Linked DNA regions of Homo sapiens: region 2 is linked to region 1. Evidence: fine-mapped expression QTL. A gene starts in region 1. The other region holds a variant in brackets. All regions are shown on one strand. Distances are between the middles of the regions. Region 1 holds the start of KIF1C (kinesin family member 1C). Region 2 holds the start of LOC105371501 (a long non-coding RNA gene).

What was found. PIP is the estimated chance that this variant, and not a neighbour inherited with it, causes the effect.
Region 2: its variant is fine-mapped to the expression of KIF1C in whole blood (TOPMed, PIP 0.91).

What each region holds. Positions count from the first base shown.
Region 1 is chr17:4,993,366-5,001,365 of GRCh38, forward strand. KIF1C (kinesin family member 1C) reads left to right here and starts at 4,585. Exons shown (of 23, transcript NM_006612.6): 1 at 4,585-4,791; 2 at 6,485-6,605; 3 at 6,855-6,987; 4 at 7,407-7,483; 5 at 7,857-8,000. The coding sequence starts at 6,882. INCA1 (inhibitor of CDK, cyclin A1 interacting protein 1) reads right to left here and starts at 4,157. Exons shown (of 7, transcript NM_001394789.1): 1 at 4,131-4,157; 2 at 1,029-1,110. The coding sequence starts at 1,072. RefSeq lists silencers at 3,898-3,987, 4,028-4,897, 4,948-5,047 and enhancers at 6,290-6,901, 6,902-7,512.
Region 2 is chr17:5,025,202-5,035,119 of GRCh38, forward strand. KIF1C (kinesin family member 1C) reads left to right here. Exons shown (of 23, transcript NM_006612.6): 23 at 1-3,200. SLC52A1 (solute carrier family 52 member 1) reads right to left here. Exons shown (of 5, transcript NM_017986.4): 1 at 9,660-9,918; 2 at 9,276-9,512; 3 at 8,278-9,157; 4 at 8,060-8,183; 5 at 7,401-7,968. The coding sequence starts at 9,405. The coding sequence ends at 7,756. LOC105371501 (a long non-coding RNA gene) reads left to right here and starts at 5,605. Exons shown (of 4, transcript XR_002958101.2): 1 at 5,605-5,696; 2 at 5,820-5,970; 3 at 6,373-6,468. RefSeq lists a silencer at 6,467-6,556 and an enhancer at 6,577-6,716. The variant C/T (reference allele first, on the strand shown) is at 5,926.

The DNA.
Region 1 (8,000 bases):
ATGGGGTTTCTCCATGTTGGTCAGGCTGGTCTCAAACTCCCAACCTCAGGTGATCTGCCCACCTCAGCCTTCCAAAGTGCTGAGATTATGGCATGAGCCATTGGGCCCGGCCTTTTTTTTTGAGACGGAGTCTCGCTTTGTCACTCAGGCTGGAGTGCAGTGGTGTGATCTCGGCTCATTGCAAGGTCCGCCTCCTGGGTTCACGCCATTCTCCTGCCTCAGCCTCCCGAGTAGCTGGGACTACAGGCGCCCGCCACCACACCCGGCTAATTTTTTTGTATTTTTAGTAGACACGAGTTTCACTTTGTTAGCCAGGATGGTCTTGATCTCCTGACCTCGTGATCCACCCACCTCGGCCTCCCAAAGTGCTGGGATTACAGGTGTGAGCCACCGTGCCTGGCCTTTTTTTTTTTTTTTTTTTTTTGAGATGGAGTCTTGTTCTGTCGCCCAGGCTGGAGTGCAGTGGCACAATCTTGGCTCACTGCAACCCCTGCCTCCTGGGTTCAAGCAATTCTCATGCCTCAGCCTCCCAAGTAGCTGGGATTACAGGCGAGCACCACCATGCCTGGCTAATTTTTGTATTTCTAGTAGAGATGGGGTTTTGTCATGTTGGCCAGGCTGGTCTCGAACTCCTGATCTCAGGTGATCCGCCTGCCTCGGCCTCCCAAAGTGCTGGGATTACAGGAGTGAGCCACCACACCTGGCCCACTGTTTTATGTTTTAAATAGTACCCATCATTAGCTGAAATTGTATTTGTTTGCACATTCTGTGTTCCCCTCTCTAGAATGTAAGCTCTACAAGAGCAGGACCCCTATCCTGCTAGTTGCTGAATCCCCAGTGCCTAATACAGTCCCTGGAACATTGTAGTGTTCAAACTATTTGTTGAATAAATTAATGAATCATCAATCCCCTGAGACCAGGCATTGCATTTCCCGTTCTTTATTTCCTAATCCTCTTAGGGAAGGACCCAGGCATGCAATATCCCCTCCATCCCATCCCCATGCTCCCCACCCAGTGGGAGGACTCACTTGGCAAAGGGGATGAGGTTGACTCCATCATCCTGCACCTGCATGACTGGACGGGGCTGGGTAGTTAGTCTCCTTTTTGGTGCTGGGAGGATAATGGAAAAGAAGTCATTCATTCGGGCTGGATGTGGTGGCTCACGCCTGTAATCCCAGTACTTTTGGAGGCCAAGGCGGGCGGATCATGAGGTCAGGAGTTCAAGACCAGCCTGGCCAATATAGTGAAACCCCATCTCTGCTAAAAATACAAACATTAGTCGGGTGTGGTGGCGCGCGCCTATAGTCCCAGCTACCCAGAAAGCTGAGGCAGAAGAATCGCTTGAACCTGGGAGGCGGAGGTTGCAGTGAGCCGAGATCGCGCCACTGCACTCCAGCCTGGGGGACAGAGCAAGACTCTGTCTCAAAAAAAAAAAAAAAAAAAAAAAAGGCATTCATTCATATAATGTCTGTAGGGATGAGGCCAGTAGCAGATCTAGAGAATGGAAAAAGAATGTATGGATGCTGAAAAAAGAGAGAGCTTAAAAGGTATTTGTAGCGGCTGGGCGCAGTGGCTTATGCCTGTAATCCCAGCCCTTTGGGAGGCCGAGGCAGGCAGATCACCTGAGGTTGGGAGTTCGAGACCAGTCTGACCAACATGGAGAAACCCCGTCTCTACTAAAAATACAAAATTAGCTGGGCATGGTGGCGCATGCCTGTAATCCCAGCTACTCCGGAGGCTGAGGCAGAAGAATCACTTGAACCAGGGAGTAGGAAGTTGCAGTGAGCTGAAATTGCACCACTGCACTCCAGACTGGCAACAGAGCAAGACTCTGTCTCAAAAAAAAAAAAAAGGTATTTGTAGTGCTGGACTGTTAATTGAACATTTAGGTTGAAGATAGTGAGCACAGGAAAAGTGGATGTGGTAAAAAGATAAAGGAGAAAGCAAATCTTCTGAAGCTAAATGTGCAGAATAAGTGAAATTTACAGATGGCAGTTAAGCGACAACTGGCAATATGGGACAATGAAATTGAAAAATGATGACAGTGGAGACTGGGTGGGGTGGAGGCATTTGGGGGTAAGAGAAGTGACAGAATTGAGGGTTCTCAATGAATCAACTATGAGTGGTTAGTGAAAGTTAATTGTGTGGGCCGGGTGCAGTGGCTCACACCTGTAATCCCAGCACTTTGCGGGGCTGGGGCAAGAGAATTGCCTGAGCTCAGGAGTTGGAGACCAGCCTGGGCAATACAGAGAGACGTCATCTCTATTTAAAAAAAAAAAGTTGGCTGGGTGTGGTGGCTCACGCCTGTAATCCCAGCACTTTGGGAGGCTGAGGCGGGTGGATCACCTGAGGTCGGGAGTTCGAGACCAGTCTGACCAACATGGAGAAACCCTGTCTCTACTAAAAAATACAAAAATTAGCCGGGCATGGTGGCACATGCCTGTAATCCCAGCTACTCAGGAGGCTGAGGCAGGAGAATTGCTTGAACCAGGGAGGCAGAGGTTGCGGTGAGTTGAGATCGCGCCATTGCACTCCAGTCTGTGCAACAAGAGTGAAACTCTGTCTCTAACAAAATAAAAAAAGAAATTAAAAAAAGTTAAGTGTGGACATAATGGTCAACTGGTGACAGGGAAGGAGGGGGCAGTTGGGAATGCCTGTGGATAGGGAGGTCAGTTGCATATAGGGACAGCCAAAGATGACCTGAAGGCCAGTTGGGGTGGGGAGAAAGGGCAGTTAAGGCTGGGCACACTGGCTCACGCCTGTAATCCCAGCAATTTGGGAGGCGGAAGTGGGTGGATTGCTCGAGCCCAGGAGTTTGAGACCAGCCTGGGCAACATGGCGAAACCCCCTCTTTACCAAAATACGAAAAAGTTTAGCCAGGTGTGGTGGTGTGCGCTTGTACCCGGAAGGCTGAGGTGGGAGTGTCATCTGAGCCCGGGAGGTCAAGGCTGCAGTGAGGTAAGATCGCACCACTGCACTGCACTCCAGCCTAGGCGTCAGAGTGAGACCCTGTTTCTAAGAAGAAAAAAAAAAAAGCCAGGCGCGGTGGCTCAAGACTGTAATCCCAGCACTTTGGGAGGCTGAGGTGGGCGGATCACTTGAGGTCAGGAGTTCGAGACCAGCCTGGCCAACACAGCGAAACCCAGTCTCTACTAAAAATACAAAAATTAGCCGGGTGTGGTGGCAGGCATCTGTAATCCCAGCTATTCGGGAGGCTGAGGCAGGAGAATCGCTTGAACCCAGGAGGCGGAGGTTGCCGTGAGCCGAGGTCAGCCTGGGCAACAGAGCAAGACTCCGTCTCAAAAAAAAAAAAAAAAAAAAAAAAAGAATACTAGATAAGTTAGGAGAGAGTGCACATAGGCTCCCGAAGGACAGAAGCAGCCAGCTGGAACTGTAGAGGTGAACTAGTATTTATCCAAGGGAACTAGGGATGGGCTGGGAAAGCAGGTGAGGTCAAAAGCGGAGAGAAGTATACCGTGCGGAAGCGGCAGATGGGGCTAGTTGGAGTTGGGCTGAAAGGGCCTAAAGTGGGGTCTAAAGGGGATGTCCTGACTCGGAGGGGGGTCAGCAGAACGCGAGGGAGCAGCGGGAGCTGCGGGGCATTCGGGCCTCAGATAGTTGGGTCCAAGCGGGTGACCTAGATCCAAGGGCAGGATGGAGCTGAAGGAAGCCAGGAAGGATCCTCCACAGTTGACTTCGGGGTAGCCACGGCCTGCGCCTGCGAGGGTGGATGAGGACCCGAGGGTCCGGCTGGGGCTGAGGGGCTGCCTGGAGCCCCGCTGGAGGGAAGCGCCGGGCCGGAGGGCGCGGCCTGCGCCTGAAAGGGCGACGGGGACCCTCGACAGGTGGACCGGGCGTGGCCGGACCTTCCGGGCAGCCCCGCCCGAGGGCACGACTGGGGGCTGCTTCCCTCGAGAGGGGCCCTGAGGTGGTGGGCCCAGGCTGAAGGGCAGGCTGGGGCCTGAGGGACGCCCCGGGTCTGAGAGGGCAGCTCCGGCCTTAGGCGGCACCCGGGCCTGAAGGGGTTGTTTGGGCCTCAGGCGGCGTCCAGGGCGGCCGAACTTGAGGGCCAGGCGGGGACAGAGCGCCCGAGTAGCCGCGCCACGGCCGGCCGCATTTGGCCCCAGCACCTGAAGCAGCTGCGCGGCGAATTCTAGAACTCGGCGGGGCGGGGAGGAGAGAGACGGCGATTCGAGCCGCGGGAGGAGCCGGCGGGCGGTGCTCGTCTGAGGGCGGGGCCTGAGCGGAGCCACCTTCTGGGCGGGCCTCGGCAGGAGGCTCCGCCCCCTGGACGCGCCTCCAACGGCGGCGACGGGAACTGGGCCGGGGCCTGGGTGCCCCCGCGGGTCAGCCCCCGACGTTTCCCTGTTCTTCAGGCGTCTGCAACCCTCCTGGGTTGCGGCGTCTGCTCGCCCTTCTGCGTCCGCAGCTCGGTCCCCACGTTCCCGCTCGCTGGGCCCCACAGGCCAGGAGCGTTGCCCCTTTAACAAGAGTAGCCCGGGTCGCTCCCGGCTCCTTCCCGGGACCGCGCGTACCCGCCCCTCCGCGCGCGCTCGCGCGTCCCCCGCCCCTCGCTCCCGCCCCAGCTCGCGCTGCCCGGGCGGGCGCCGGCCGCTGGCGCCGCTACTGCTGCCGCCCCCGGGGCGCGAGTCCGCCGCCCGCCGCCCGGGCACCCGGCGAGGGGCGGGGGCAGCTCCGAACCGGCCCCAGATCCTTCCCGCTTCCGCCTCACGCTTCCCGGAAAGCTTGTCCCTCTCCGCCGAGCTGCTCCGGGAGCCCCGCCGCGCCGAGGTGAGGGCTGGGGAAGGGGGAGGGAAGGGACGCCCGCGGAGGAATGTGCCGGGTTGGGGGGCGGGGAGCCGGGGTCCGGCGGCGCGATCTAGGCTCAAGAGTCGGGATCATGTGCTGTTTGTTCCGCGGAGGCGCAGAGAGGTGCCAGGCCCGGGCGGCCGCCGGCTGGCTGGACAGGAGGACGGGTCCGCATGGCCGCCCTGAGAGGCCGGGCGGGGACCTGTGTGAGAACCGCCGGGTGGGCAAGGTGCAGGTGGCCCAAGACCCCCTTTCGGGCCGGTCGGCCCCACCCCAGCCGCCCAGTATCCTCCTTGTACCCCACGGCTCCTTCACAGCTGCACCGGCCGACCCCTGTCCCTACCTCTATTCCCTTACCCCGCTGGCCCCCAGCCGTGCCACCCCATCCCTGTCCCATTAGCTGCAGCAACGGCGTCACCATCGCTTGTCCCCACCAGTGTCCTTCCCTCCCCTGGTCAGGGTCTAGGGGGTCAGGGCTGTTCTTCCTGAGCCAGCTTCTGTGATTCCAGCTACTCCCTTCCTGTCCTGGGACAGACCAGCCCCTCACCCTCCCATGCTCTGCCCAGGAAGACTGGTGAGGGGAGGCCCAGCGTGACAGGAGTTTGGGGTCCACTGGGGCCACAGGAGGGGGCTCCGCATCCCTTATCCTTCGTGGTCCTCCTCCCTGTTGTCCGTGGGCGTGGGCTGCTCAGCCTCTCCTCCCAGGGTGTGGGCACCCGATCACCCACATTCCTGGGCTCCAGCCTGGCACCTTCCCCAGGGCAGTGGACGCCATAGCACTAGCCCCAGGTTGGGGCTGGCACCAGCCAGCCGGCTTCCTTTTCTTTCTCCCTTTTAGGGAGGCCCCAGGGACCCTCTACCCTCAAACACAGGTATTTCTGGGCGCCCCAAGGGTGGAGCCCTGAGGGTTGGTCTGATGGCTACAGGATGACCCCACCCTCCCCTGCTCATTGTCCCGGATCCTGAGGAGGAAGTGCTGGGGGCTGGGCAAGGGGCTTAGAGCCCACACAGCTGGCCCTGTGGATCCCAGTCCTGGGCCCTACCTACAGTCCTTGGACTTTGCCCATCTGCACTACTGGCCTGGTGCATGGAGGTTGTGGGCCTCAGGTGGAAACTAGATTCTCCCTTGCCGACACTGTGGGGGAATTTGAGGACAGGTTTTGCATTTGCAGTTTCCTCTCTGGTCTCTCTTCTGGGCTCCCAGTTTGTGCTTTGGCGCCGGAGTTCCCCACCCTGTCTCTTTAACACCGTGTGTTTGCTGTGCTGTGTCTCTTCCTCCTTTCCTCTCCCATTCTTTCCTTCATAGCATGACCTCAGGCTTGCCTTTTGTCTTATTTCTCTAATTTTCTTGGTGTCTGTGACTCTCTGCCCCTCCTCTCTCTCTTCCCACCCCCCTCACGTCTCTGCCCATGTGCCCCTCTCTCTGAATTGCCCTCTGTCCAGCCTCTTTCTCTCTCTGTCCTCTATCTGAACGTTCAGTACATTTGCGAGTGACAAGGAATAAAAATATCACCGTCCCTGCCCTTGGATTCACATTGCATTCAGCCACTCTAGAGGGGCAGCTGTCCGTACTTTTCCTGCTATTCCCCCCGTAACCTTGGCCCTCCAACCTGGGAACCCCAGACGGGTCTCTGGAACCACAGGTGCCTTCTAACAACTCTTCCCCCGCAATCAGGGTATCTCCCAGAGCCCCAGCTGGTGTGGCCAGGCCCCAGGAGTAGGATGGGGCTCCCCCTACGAGGGCCGGTGGCAGCCAGAACTGATACAGCCCCCCTGGTCTGGGGCCAGGACGCCAGGTAACTGGGGGAGACCGCCCAGGTTCCTGCAAGCTGGAATATGGCTGGGGAGAGAGGCAGAAATACCTTTGGGAGTCTCTCAAGACAGTGACATTTGGGAGGAAAGCCAAGGGAATAAGAGCTGGGTCCTTGAGAGGCTGGGTGGCTCTGGGGGAGATGTGAAGAGACTGGTTCCGGGAAGAAGCTGGGAGGCAATGTCTGGGTCCCTGCAGTGGTTCTGACCCCACCACTCCTTTCTCTGTCCTCCAGCTGAGGAGGGCAGGAGTGTCTGGAGCTATGGCTGGTGCCTCGGTGAAAGTGGCAGTGAGGGTTCGGCCCTTTAACGCCCGTGAGACCAGCCAGGATGCCAAGTGTGTGGTCAGCATGCAGGGCAACACCACCTGTGAGTGAGTCCCCGGGGCCTGGCTGGGCACAGGCAGGGAAGGCCGGGCCCACCACACAGGCCAGTCCCGCTGGGCCAAACTAAGAGGAGGGTAATGCTGGGCACAGAGCAGGTGCTAGTCGTAAGGGCGGGGGCTGGGGCAGGCTGGCCTTTCCCGTGTTCCCAGTCCCTGGGAGGGGGAATGTTGGCCTGGAGCCCTCCATTGCCCAATCCAGGGAGGCAGCTCAGTGGGGGCGGGTCCTAGGAAGCCAAAATTAGCTTTGGTGGCTGGAGGGGGTGGGGAATGTTAAAGGGGAGAGAAGAGTCAGGACAGTGGTGAGGAGTGGGATGCTTGGATTCCAGGGGCTGGTTGGGGTATGGGCAGGGACTGGGAATACCTGACCTTGACTTTCCTTCCTTTACCCTCTCCTGCCCCTCAGCCATCATCAATCCTAAACAGAGCAAGGATGCCCCCAAAAGCTTCACCTTTGACTACTCCTACTGGTCACACACTTCGGTGGGTTGTTGGGCTGGGGGAAGAGCAAGGCAGTGAGAGACAGAGGATTTAGGTCCTGGGGAGGGGACATGTTAAGAAATAGGACCCCCAGGGGATTAGTCAGGGTGAATTGGGAGGATGATCCTGGGTGGGGGTGGTAGGACCCTTAGGCTGTGATTGAGGCCTCGACAGGAAGGCGGAATCCCTTGGGGTAATTAGGACTAGCAGGGGCTGGATAGGATCCTTGGGGTGGTAAGGACAATGATGAGGGTGGGAGGGCACACAGGACATTTGGGGAATCGTCAGTGATGGAAGCAAGACTCTTGGGACAGAGACACAAAGGATAAAGACATCCAGGGTTACTCTGTTTTTCTCTGCCCCCACTTTCTCCTAGACGGAGGACCCCCAGTTTGCATCTCAGCAGCAAGTGTATCGGGACATTGGAGAAGAGATGCTGCTCCACGCCTTTGAAGGCTACAACGTGTGCATCTTTGCCTATGGGCAGACCGGGGCTGGGAAATCCTATACCATGATGGGG
Region 2 (9,918 bases), 33 kb after region 1:
TGTCTCAGTCTGTGCCAGCAGCACCACTGTCTGTTATGGACAAAGCACAGAAGCGGGGATGCGAGGGGAGGTAGAGGGACCGCCAGCCTGTCAATGCTTAACTGGCTGTTGCTGACAGATACAGAAGGATTTGTGGGGTACAGAGGAGTTCTGCTTTAAGTCACCTAACTTACTTGAAAGGTCTCCCAAGCAGCCAGTTTCTCTTGATAGTGAATGGGTTGGGCAAGCATACTGCGCTTACCTGATTGTTTTCATCCTGGTTGTGTTACCTGCCTTCTGGCAGGCTACATCATTGTTCCCAGTCGTTATTTTATTTGTGTTAAGACTGTTTGTTGGCCAGGCGCAGTGGTTCACGCCTGTAATGCCAGCACTGGGAGGCCGAGGCAGGTGGATCACGAGGTCAGGAGATCGAGACCATCCTGGCTATCATGGTGAAACCCCATCTCTACTAAAAATAAAAATAAAAAAATTAGCCGGGCATGGTGGCGGGGGCCTGTAGTCCCAGCTACTCAGGAGGCTGAGGCAGGAGAATGGCATGAACCTGGGAGGCGGAGCTTGCAGTGAGCTGAGATTGCGCCACTGCACTCCAGCCTGGGCGACAGAGCGAGACTCCATTTCAAGAAAAATTAAAAAACTGTTTGTTGCCTGCTTGTTTTAATGTTCTGGCTTGAGGCAGCGAGCCCTTGACTATGCCACATTGCCAGGATTTTGCAGGTTAGATTGTACTACAGCACTGCCTTTGGCTTGCCAGACTCTGGAGTCCCCACATTTTCATCCTGTTCTCAGGAAAACACTTTGACCCACTTGAAGCTCTGAGCTACTGCTTCACAGCTTCCTGGGGTCAGTCTCCAGCCAAAACCATAGATATCCCAACTGCAGCCAAACCACGGCTCTGGGCGAAGGAACGATTAGGTTTACTCTAGGTTTCCACACCCTGATGCTCCTGCCTTTACTTTGACACCTCTGACTGCCAGGTTTTCACAGACCTGTTGACAGTGACTCAAGATCTGGAATGTAATGGATGGTTTGGCAACAGTGTTTGCTTGAGCAGTTTAAAATCTGGCCAGGGAGACTCAATGTGAGCAAGAAAATGATAGAATACCAAGTTTTCTGGAGGTCAGAGGGAGCTGAGTTGAGTGTTACCGAGAATGCTGTGGGGTTTGAGATGAGAAAAATAGCTTGCTAATTTAAAAGACGGATTATTTTTCCCTAAAGACCTTGACTTATGTAAATGTATATTATCCATAATTTTAAAAATCCACTTATGGCTGGGCACAGAAGCTCACACCTGTAATCCCAGCACTTTGGGAGGCTGAGGCAGGAGGATCAGTTGAGTCCAGGAGTTCGAGACCAGCCTGGGCAACATAGTGAAACCCTGTATCTACAAAACATAGAAAAACTAGTTGGGTGTGGTGGTGTGTACCTGTAGTTCCAGCTACTAGGGAGGTAGGAAGATCACCTGAGCCCATGGAGATTGAGGCTGTGGTGAGCTGTGAAGGCACCACAGCACTCTGGCCTGGGCAAGAGTGGGACTCTCTCAAAAAAAAAAAAAAAAAAAAATCCACATATCCAGCCTTCCAAGTCAGTCTTTAATAATGTGCACGGGCCAGGCACAGTGGCTCACACCCGTAATCCCAACACTTTGGAATATTAGGGTGGGAGCATCACTTGAGGCCAGGAATTTGAGACCAGCCTGGGCAACATAGTGAGACTGCCCCCCCCATCTCTACAAAAAATAAAAATCAAAAATAATACTGTGGGCAAACTTTACTTAGATTTTATTCAGAGTAGTGCCTGTTTATTTTTCATCTGTGCTACCTGTGCCGGCATTCCATATGCATTTGATTTAGTCTTTAAAGTACCCCGGTAAAATAGGTCTTTTGTCTGCATTTTTCAGATGGGAAGACTGAGGTTTTGTTTATTTATTTTTATTTATTTATTTTTTGAGACGGAGTCTCGCTCTGTTGCCTAGGCTGGAGTGCGATGGCACAATCTTGGCTCACTACAACCTCCGCTTCCTGGGTTCAAGCGATTCTCCTGCCTCAGCCTCCTGAGTAGCTAGGATTACAGGCGCCCACAACCGCACCCGGCTAATTTTTTGTATCTTTAGTAGAGACAGGGTTTCACTATGTTGTCCAAGCTGGTTTCGAATTCCTGACCTCAGGTGATCCACCCGCCTCTGCCTCCCAAAATGTTGGGATTACAGGCGTGAGCCACCACGCCCAGCCTATTTATTTATTTTTTTAGAATCAAGATCTTGCTATGTTGCCCAGGCTGAACTCGAACTCCTGGGCTCAAGCAATCCTGCCTCCCAAGCCAAGCAGCTGGTACTGCAAGCATGTGCCACCGTGCCTGGCTCCTGAAGACTGAGGTTGGTTTAGATTAATGAGTTGCCCAAATTCAGACAGTTCTTAAGTGGCAAAGTTAGGATTCCAACCCAGGTCAACATAACTAAAGCCCAAACCCCATCTCACCCCTCTAGGCCATCAAGTATTGGCTGGGTGCGGTGGTTTATGTCTGTAATCCCAGCACTTTGGGAGGCGGAGGCGGGAGGACTGTTTGAGCTCAGGAGTTTGAGACCAGCCTGGGCAACATAACAAGACCCTGTCTCTACAAAAATATATAAATTAGCCGGGTGTACTGGCTCACACCTGTAGCTACTTGGGAGGCTGAGGTGGGAGGATCGCTTGAGCCTGGGAGGTCAAGGCTGCGGTGACCTGTGATTGCACCACCAGGAGACCCTGTCTTAAAAATGTATATATAAAAATAAAAAGAACATCAGACATCACCATCACCTCGCTTAGAATCCATGGGGCCTTCTCCTCAAATTCAATCTTCCCAGGCATTTCATGAACTTGCGTCTAGTTTCTGTTCCCTCTCAAATTGCCCAGGCTGTCCTGTGAGTGACAGCAGCTATTTCGTGGGCCTCCTCTGGAATCATGAGAAGTCACCCAAACAATCTCAGTTTTCTAGCTCACTCCGTCTTGACATTTCTACACTGTCATCCTTGGTTTTCTTGGAAATTAATTTGCTTTTCTTCATTGTCTTTCTTTGGAGCTGCTTTCCTTTTGTTGGTTACTATTTTATTTTTAGCTTCTCACACCATACCGACATATGTTGGTTATTCTTTTAGACATGTTTTTTGTTGTTGTTGTCACCTGGAACTTTTGTATCTTGAATAAATTTGGGGATCAAATACATTTTTTCTCCACCAGTCTTATTTATACCTTTCTATATTCAGAGCTTCAAATTTGGTTTGGTTTGAAATTGTTCTCCCCCCAACCTTTTTTTTTTTTTTTTTGAGATGGAGTTTTGCTCTTGTCGCCCAGGCTAGAGTGCAGTGGCATGATCTCCGCTCGCTGCAACCTCCGCCTCCCGGGTTCAAGCGATTCTCCGGCCTCAGCTTCCCAAGTAGCTGGGATTACAGGCATGTGCCACCATGCCCGACCAATATTTGTATTTTTAGTAGAGATGGGGTTTTGGCATGTTAGCCAGGCTGGTCTTGAACTCCTGACCTCAAGTGATCCGCCCACCTCAGCCTCCCAAAGTATTGGGATTACAGGCATGAGCCACCATGCCTGGCCTTTTTTTTTTTTTTTTTTTTTTAACTTTTATTTATTTTCGAGAAGGAATCTCACTCTGTCGCCCAGGCTGGAGTACAGTGGTGCCATCACAGCTTATTACAGCCTCAACCTCCCAGGCTCAAGTGATCCTCCCACCTCAGCTTCCTGAGCAGCTGAGACTGCAGGTGCATGCCACCATGCCCAGCTAATTTTTTGTAGTTTTCTAGAGGCAGGGTTTTGTCATGCTGCCCAGGGTGATCTGGAACTTCGGAGCTCAAGCAATCCATCCATGTCTGCCTCCCAAAATGCTGGGATTATAGGCGTGAGCCAGTCACCTTTTCCCTTTTATTTTATTTTATTAATTTATTTTTATTTTATTTTTGAGACAGAGCCTTGCTCTGTCGCCAGGCTGGAGTGCAGTGGTGTAATCTCGGCTGACTGCAACCTCTGCCTCCCAGGTTCAAGCGATTCTTCTGCCTCAGCCTCCCGAGTAGCTGGGATTACAGGCGCGTGCCACCATGTCCGGCTAATTTTTGTATTTTTAGTAGAGGCGGGGTTTTACCGTGTTGACCAGGATGGTCTTGATCTCTTAACCTCGTGATCCACCTGCCTCGGCCTCCCAAAATGCTAGGATTACAGGCGTGAGCCACCGCACCTGGCCCTAAAAGTAGCCTTCTTTTCCCTTTTAAAGAGTTAGTGTCCATAGCTACTGGATGCCATTTTGGTTCAGGTGGACCGTGAATAGGTTTCACTCATCATGCCCAAAGGTTGCCACTCCTGACAAGTCACAGACAACGCTTGCACCATCATCTTCTTCCTTCAGAGTCTGTGGTCCCCTGGATGTCACTAAGGTCCTGCTTCCTGTACCAATAGGTTTTAAACACTACCCAAGGCAGGCTGGCTTTAAATATCCTACTTAATCTGGCTGACAGGCTCTCCCTGCACCTCTGGTACTCTGCTGCCTCATTAACAGCTCCGGCTACTCAGTTAAGGTTGGCATAGTGTCCATCTCTCCAGGTCAAAGGCCAGCAGCCTCTGCCTTGTACAGGAGTGTTCTCACTCCTGCTACCCACTTCTGTCTCTACTGAAAGGCAGGAGGAGACTGTGGCATCATTGGGATAGTACATTTCATCTAAAAGCCTGGTCACTAGATGTGAGTTGTAGAAACTGCTTCTCTCATCCCTCAACAATTTCACAGTTGTAGGAGCTGACATTAACCTGCCATGCCCCCAACAGCTAGGCGCGGTGGCTCATGCCTGTAATCCCAGAACTTTGGGAGGCCAAGGCAGGTGGATCACCTGAGGTAAGGAGTTCGAGACCAGCCTGGCCAACATGGAGAAACCCCCGTCTCTACTAAAAATATAAAAATTAGGCATAGTGGCACACACCTGTAATCCCAGCTACTCAGGAGGCTGAGGCAGAATTGCTTGAACCCAGGAGGCGGAGGTTGCAGTGAGCTGAGATTGCGCCACTGCACTCCAGCCTGGGTGACAGAGCAAGACTCAGTCTCAAAAAAAAAAAAAACAAAAAAAAAACAAATCCTGCTGTGTCCCCAACAGCCTCACCAATGAGAATTTCCACCTCAACTCCTCCTATTCCTTCCCCCACCTGCCCTCCCCACCTTAATCTCTGGAGAAGGAATATGTTTTGAGATAACTGGGAAAGTCTTGCCCTGTGGTACAATCCATTAAAGGTTCTTTACAAATGACCAGGGAAGCTGTTCTGTTTTTTTGTTTTTGTTTTGTTTTGTGTTTTGTTTCTTAAAGACAAGGTCTTGCTCTGTCACCCAGGGTGGAGTGCAGTGGTGGGTCTATAGTTCACTGAGGCCTCAAACTCCTAGGCTCAAGGGATTCTCCTGCCTCACCCTCCCCAGTAGCTGGAACTACAGGTGTGCGTCACCATGCCTGACTCTGGCTGTGTTTTGTTTTGTTTTGTTTTTGTAGAGACAGTGATCTTGCTATGCTGCCCAGGCTGGTCTCAACCTTATGGGCTCAAGTGATCCTCCCACCTCAGCCTCCCAAAGTGCTAGGATTACCTGCGTGAGCTATAGCGCCCTGCCTGTTCTGGGCTTCTTGCAGAGCCTCTTCAGCTGCAGAGAAGCAGCTCTCCTTTCTCCAAGTCCAGAGCCAACAGGTGAGGGCTGCAGTCAGAATCTCTGGAGCACACAGACCTGGGCTCCAGCCGTCTCACTAATTAGCTGTGGTACTCTGGGTAAGTCACCTTCTCTGAGTTTCAATTTCCTTTTCTGCAAAACAGGACGAATAATGAAGCTGTTGGGAAGATTTACTGATAATACATGTAAAGGGTCTAGCACATTTTAGGAGCTCAAGGTTGGTGCCTTCCCTTTTTCTTTACTCTGAAC[C/T]GGATATGAGGCCTTGAGAAAGAAGAGAGGCGCTTGCAAAACGAGGTGAGGTCTCAGGCACAGTGGCTCACGCCTGTAATCCCAGCACTTTAGGAGACCGAGGCGGGCGGATCATGAGGTCAGGAGTTCGAGACCAGCCTGGCCAACATGGTGAAAGCCCGTCTCTACTAAAAATACAAAAATTAGACGGGCATGGTGGTGGGCACCTGTAATCCCGGCTACTTGGGAGGTTGAGGGAGGAGAATCGCTTGAACCCAGGAGGTGGAGGTTGCAGTGAGCCGAGACTGCACCATTGCACTCCAGCCTGGGCAATAGAGCGAGACTCCGTCTCAAGCAAGCAAGCAAGCAAACAAACAAAATAAAAAACGAGGTCAAGTTTCAAAAGATGTCACCCCCAACCTGGCAAAACTTCTCCTCAAGCCCTGTCGTTCCACTCTTGTCCGCCAGGAGGAGAAAAGGTTCCCTCGAAGGACGTCTTTGCTTGCGCGTTCACGGAGCCTTGAGAACGAGTGGCCGAGGGGACCCCTGCGGCCCTGCGCGCCTGTGAGTCTCCCGGGCGGGCGGGCGGTGGGGGTGCGAGGCCGGGGGGTGGGTGCGAGGCGTGGGGGAGGTGCGAGGCGGGCGGGGCGGGGGGCGCGAGGCGGGAGGGCGCACGCGCAGAAGGCTGGCTGGGGTGACGCGGCGCCGGGCTTGGGCTTCTGTATTCCGCGTGTCTGGAGGAAGGTCCGGAGGTGGGCGGGAGCCCTGCGGGGATTTCCTCTTCCCCCAGGACTAGCTGTCATCTTCGTTTTTCAGAAGGGAGGACCTGACTCCTTTCAGAATTAGCATTTCTTCCCCTTCGTGGGTGCTCTTGAGTTCCAAAGAAAAGGAAGAGAAGCCTTCATTGAGCAGCTTCTTCTGCCTTAGGGACTGTGCTAGGGGGTAGATCGACCTTAGGGGAAACAATCCCCGCTTATTAGAGGAGGTTTTGGATCAGGGTTTGCTTTATTTGAAATTTAACAAATACAGAAAAGCAGAAGGAAGAAAATTGAAGTAATCCATGTTTCCACTGGGCGCGGCGGCTCACGCCTATAATCCCAGCACTTTGGGAGGCCAAGGCGGGCGGATCACGAGGTCAGGAGTTCGAGACCAGCCTGACCAACATGGTGAAACCCCCCGTCTCTACTAAAATTACAAAATTAGCCGGTCGTGGTGGCACACGCCTGTAATCCCAGCTACTCAGGAGGCTGAGGCAGGAGAATCGCTTGAACCCGGGAGGCAGAGGTTGCAGTGAGCCGAGATTGCACCACTGCACTCCAGCCTGAGCAACAGAGTGAGACTCCGTTGTCTTTAAAGGCCAATCCCATAGCAAATGACAGAGACTCACTTGAGTAAGAAAGGTTTTTGACAAGAAAACCCACAGAAGAAGAGATAAGCTGTGGATATAAGAAAGGCACTACAATCTGTATTTAAATCTAATTGCACACTAGATAATATATGTATGAAAAATTATTTAATCCAGTTTCCTGATTTCATTATATATTTCTTATAAGGTTTTCATTAGGCTTTTGTTTTTGTTTTTGGTTTTAAATAAAAACACTTTATTGCACAAATCCCACAAAGGTCTCAGGCCCTGGGTCCAAGCCCACAGCCCCAACCTGTCCCCTGGCTCTGGGCCTGGTCTTTGGTGCCCACCCTGGCCTCACATGCCAACGTCTTCTGTGGAGTGTGCAGGTGTCCATGAGCGTTCCTGTGTTGGGGGAAGCCTGCCTGGGCCACAAGTAGTCAGGCACTGTGGCAGCCTCACGATGAAGACAGGTGGGGTGGAGTTGGGTCCCCACCTGCCCAGGCTCAGGGGCCACAGGGGTCTACACAGTCCTTTCTGCTTTGAAACACGTGGTAGATGCTGGTGGGAGGGAACATGGCACCGGCACCAAGCAGGGAGCCCACTTGGATGGCCACACCAGCTGCCAGCAATGCCGGCCGACCCCCACCATGCAGCAGGGAGCTTGCAGCCACCTTCACATATGAGAACACACACAGACACAGCACCCACGACAGCACCTGCAAGGGAGGACACAGCAGCAGGCTGAGCATGACATGCACTTGCTCCAGGGGACACCCTCCTCCCCACTTCATGTCTCCACTTGCTCACCACAAGGACCACCCCTGCAGTGGTGCCCACCAGGGGTGGGCAGGGGCTCAGGATTGCCAGTGCCATCAGGTAGGCCCCAAAGAGCATGCCCAGCAGAGAAAGACCAACCAGCCCTGCCAGGGACCTGTTGGGGATGAGCAGAGACTCAGGGCTGGCTGTTCTGGGACCTGGACCCCAACCTTAAGTTCCACCCACCAAGCCTGGGGACCCTTTTGCACCTGCACAGCACGCCCATGGCCAGGAAGCAGGCAAGGGGGTTGGCGGCACTGCCCAGCACCACAGCCAGGTGGTAGGCCAGGCGCCCATAGGGCAAACAGGAAAAGCTCTGCACAGAAGGCAGCACGCCATTGGTCACGGCACTGGTGAAGGCCATCAGGCCCAGCAGGAAGGCACCATGGGCTGAGAACAGCTGATGGGCCTCAGGGTCTGGGCCAGGGATGGTGCCTGCTGCCTGGCTCGGTGGCTCCTGCAATGGCAAAGCCTCTTCTTCCTCCTTCTCTTCCTCCTCTGCTCCTGGGGATCCCAGTTGAAGTTCAGGCCCTGAGCCCCCTGTGGTTACAGAGGGTAGTGATGGCAACAGCAACAGGAGACCCCGGAAGGCGGCAGCTGAAGTGACCAGAAGGGCAGTCAGTGCCCAGAAGAAGGTGCTGGCAGGAAAACGCTCAGGGAAGTCGAGGGGAGGCCCAGAGGTGCCATTGGTGGGCGCTGGTGGGCACTCGAGGCGGCCCACACCTTGCACTAGGGCCAGCACACAGGGGAGTAGGGCACTGAGACCCTGACCCAGGAAGAAAGACCGTAAGAAAGGAGGTGGCAGGTGGCTCAGGAAGGGCAGGAAAGTGACATTAGAGGTACAACAGGCCATTGCCAACACCAAGGCCAGAGTTAGGAAGGCCACAGAGTGGAGCTGCCCTGCCACTGGGGCCACGTGGTGCCACAGAGGGGCCAGCAGGGCTGTGCCCACTACACTCAGCACCTGTACCACCTGGATGGGGACCTGCTCGCCCTTGCCCGGGGCCAGCTGCCTCCACAGGGTCACCACCAGCAGACCCAGGTTTCCCAGCGCCACAACCACAGAGAGGTATGAGGGGAGGCTCCAACCTGCAGGGAAGGAATGATGCCATGTCAGGAGCACAGTGGCTAAGGGACAAAGAGCTGCCACAGGCCACCTTTCTGGGCATACCTGCCCCACGCTTCCCTGTACCTCCCTCCCACTCACCCTCTGGAAGGTCTTTTACCACCACAGGCAGCTCCACCCAGATCCCGTTCACAGCAGCCCAGGAGCCCATGCCAAAAAGGGCCACCAGCAGGTGGGTCAGCACCAGACGGCCCAGCGTGGGTGCTGCCATTCAGCCCAAAGCTGGACCCTCCAGGACAGGGCAAAGGTCACAGGCAGGTCCTTCCCTAGGTAGGTCCAAAGATGCTTTGGTTCTTCTGGAAACTGAAGACCTTCTAGCTGGAGGGAAACAGACAGGCTGGCAGGTAATAGGCTGGTGGGACAGAACCGGAGTCAGAAGACAAGTCGGTCAGACTGCTAAGACCAGGGCAACTGGAGGGAGAGGTGGCCGGGGGCGGGCGGGGAAGGTGGGGAGCCAGGACTTACCACGGGGCACCGGCTGTGCGTTTGGGTACAGCGACCCAGCAGTGCCGGCAGGCAGACAGGCAGAAAGCTGGCCCGAGGTGCAGCTGCCCCAGAGGAGCAAAGAGGGAGCTGATTTTCCTACCCACAGAGGACCCGGGGTCCAAGTTGTCAAAACAGCTCAGCACTGGCCGGGTGCGGTGGCTCACACCTGTAATCCCAGCACTTTGGGAAGCTGAGGAAGGCAGATCGCCTGAGGTCAGGAGATTGAGACCATCCTGGC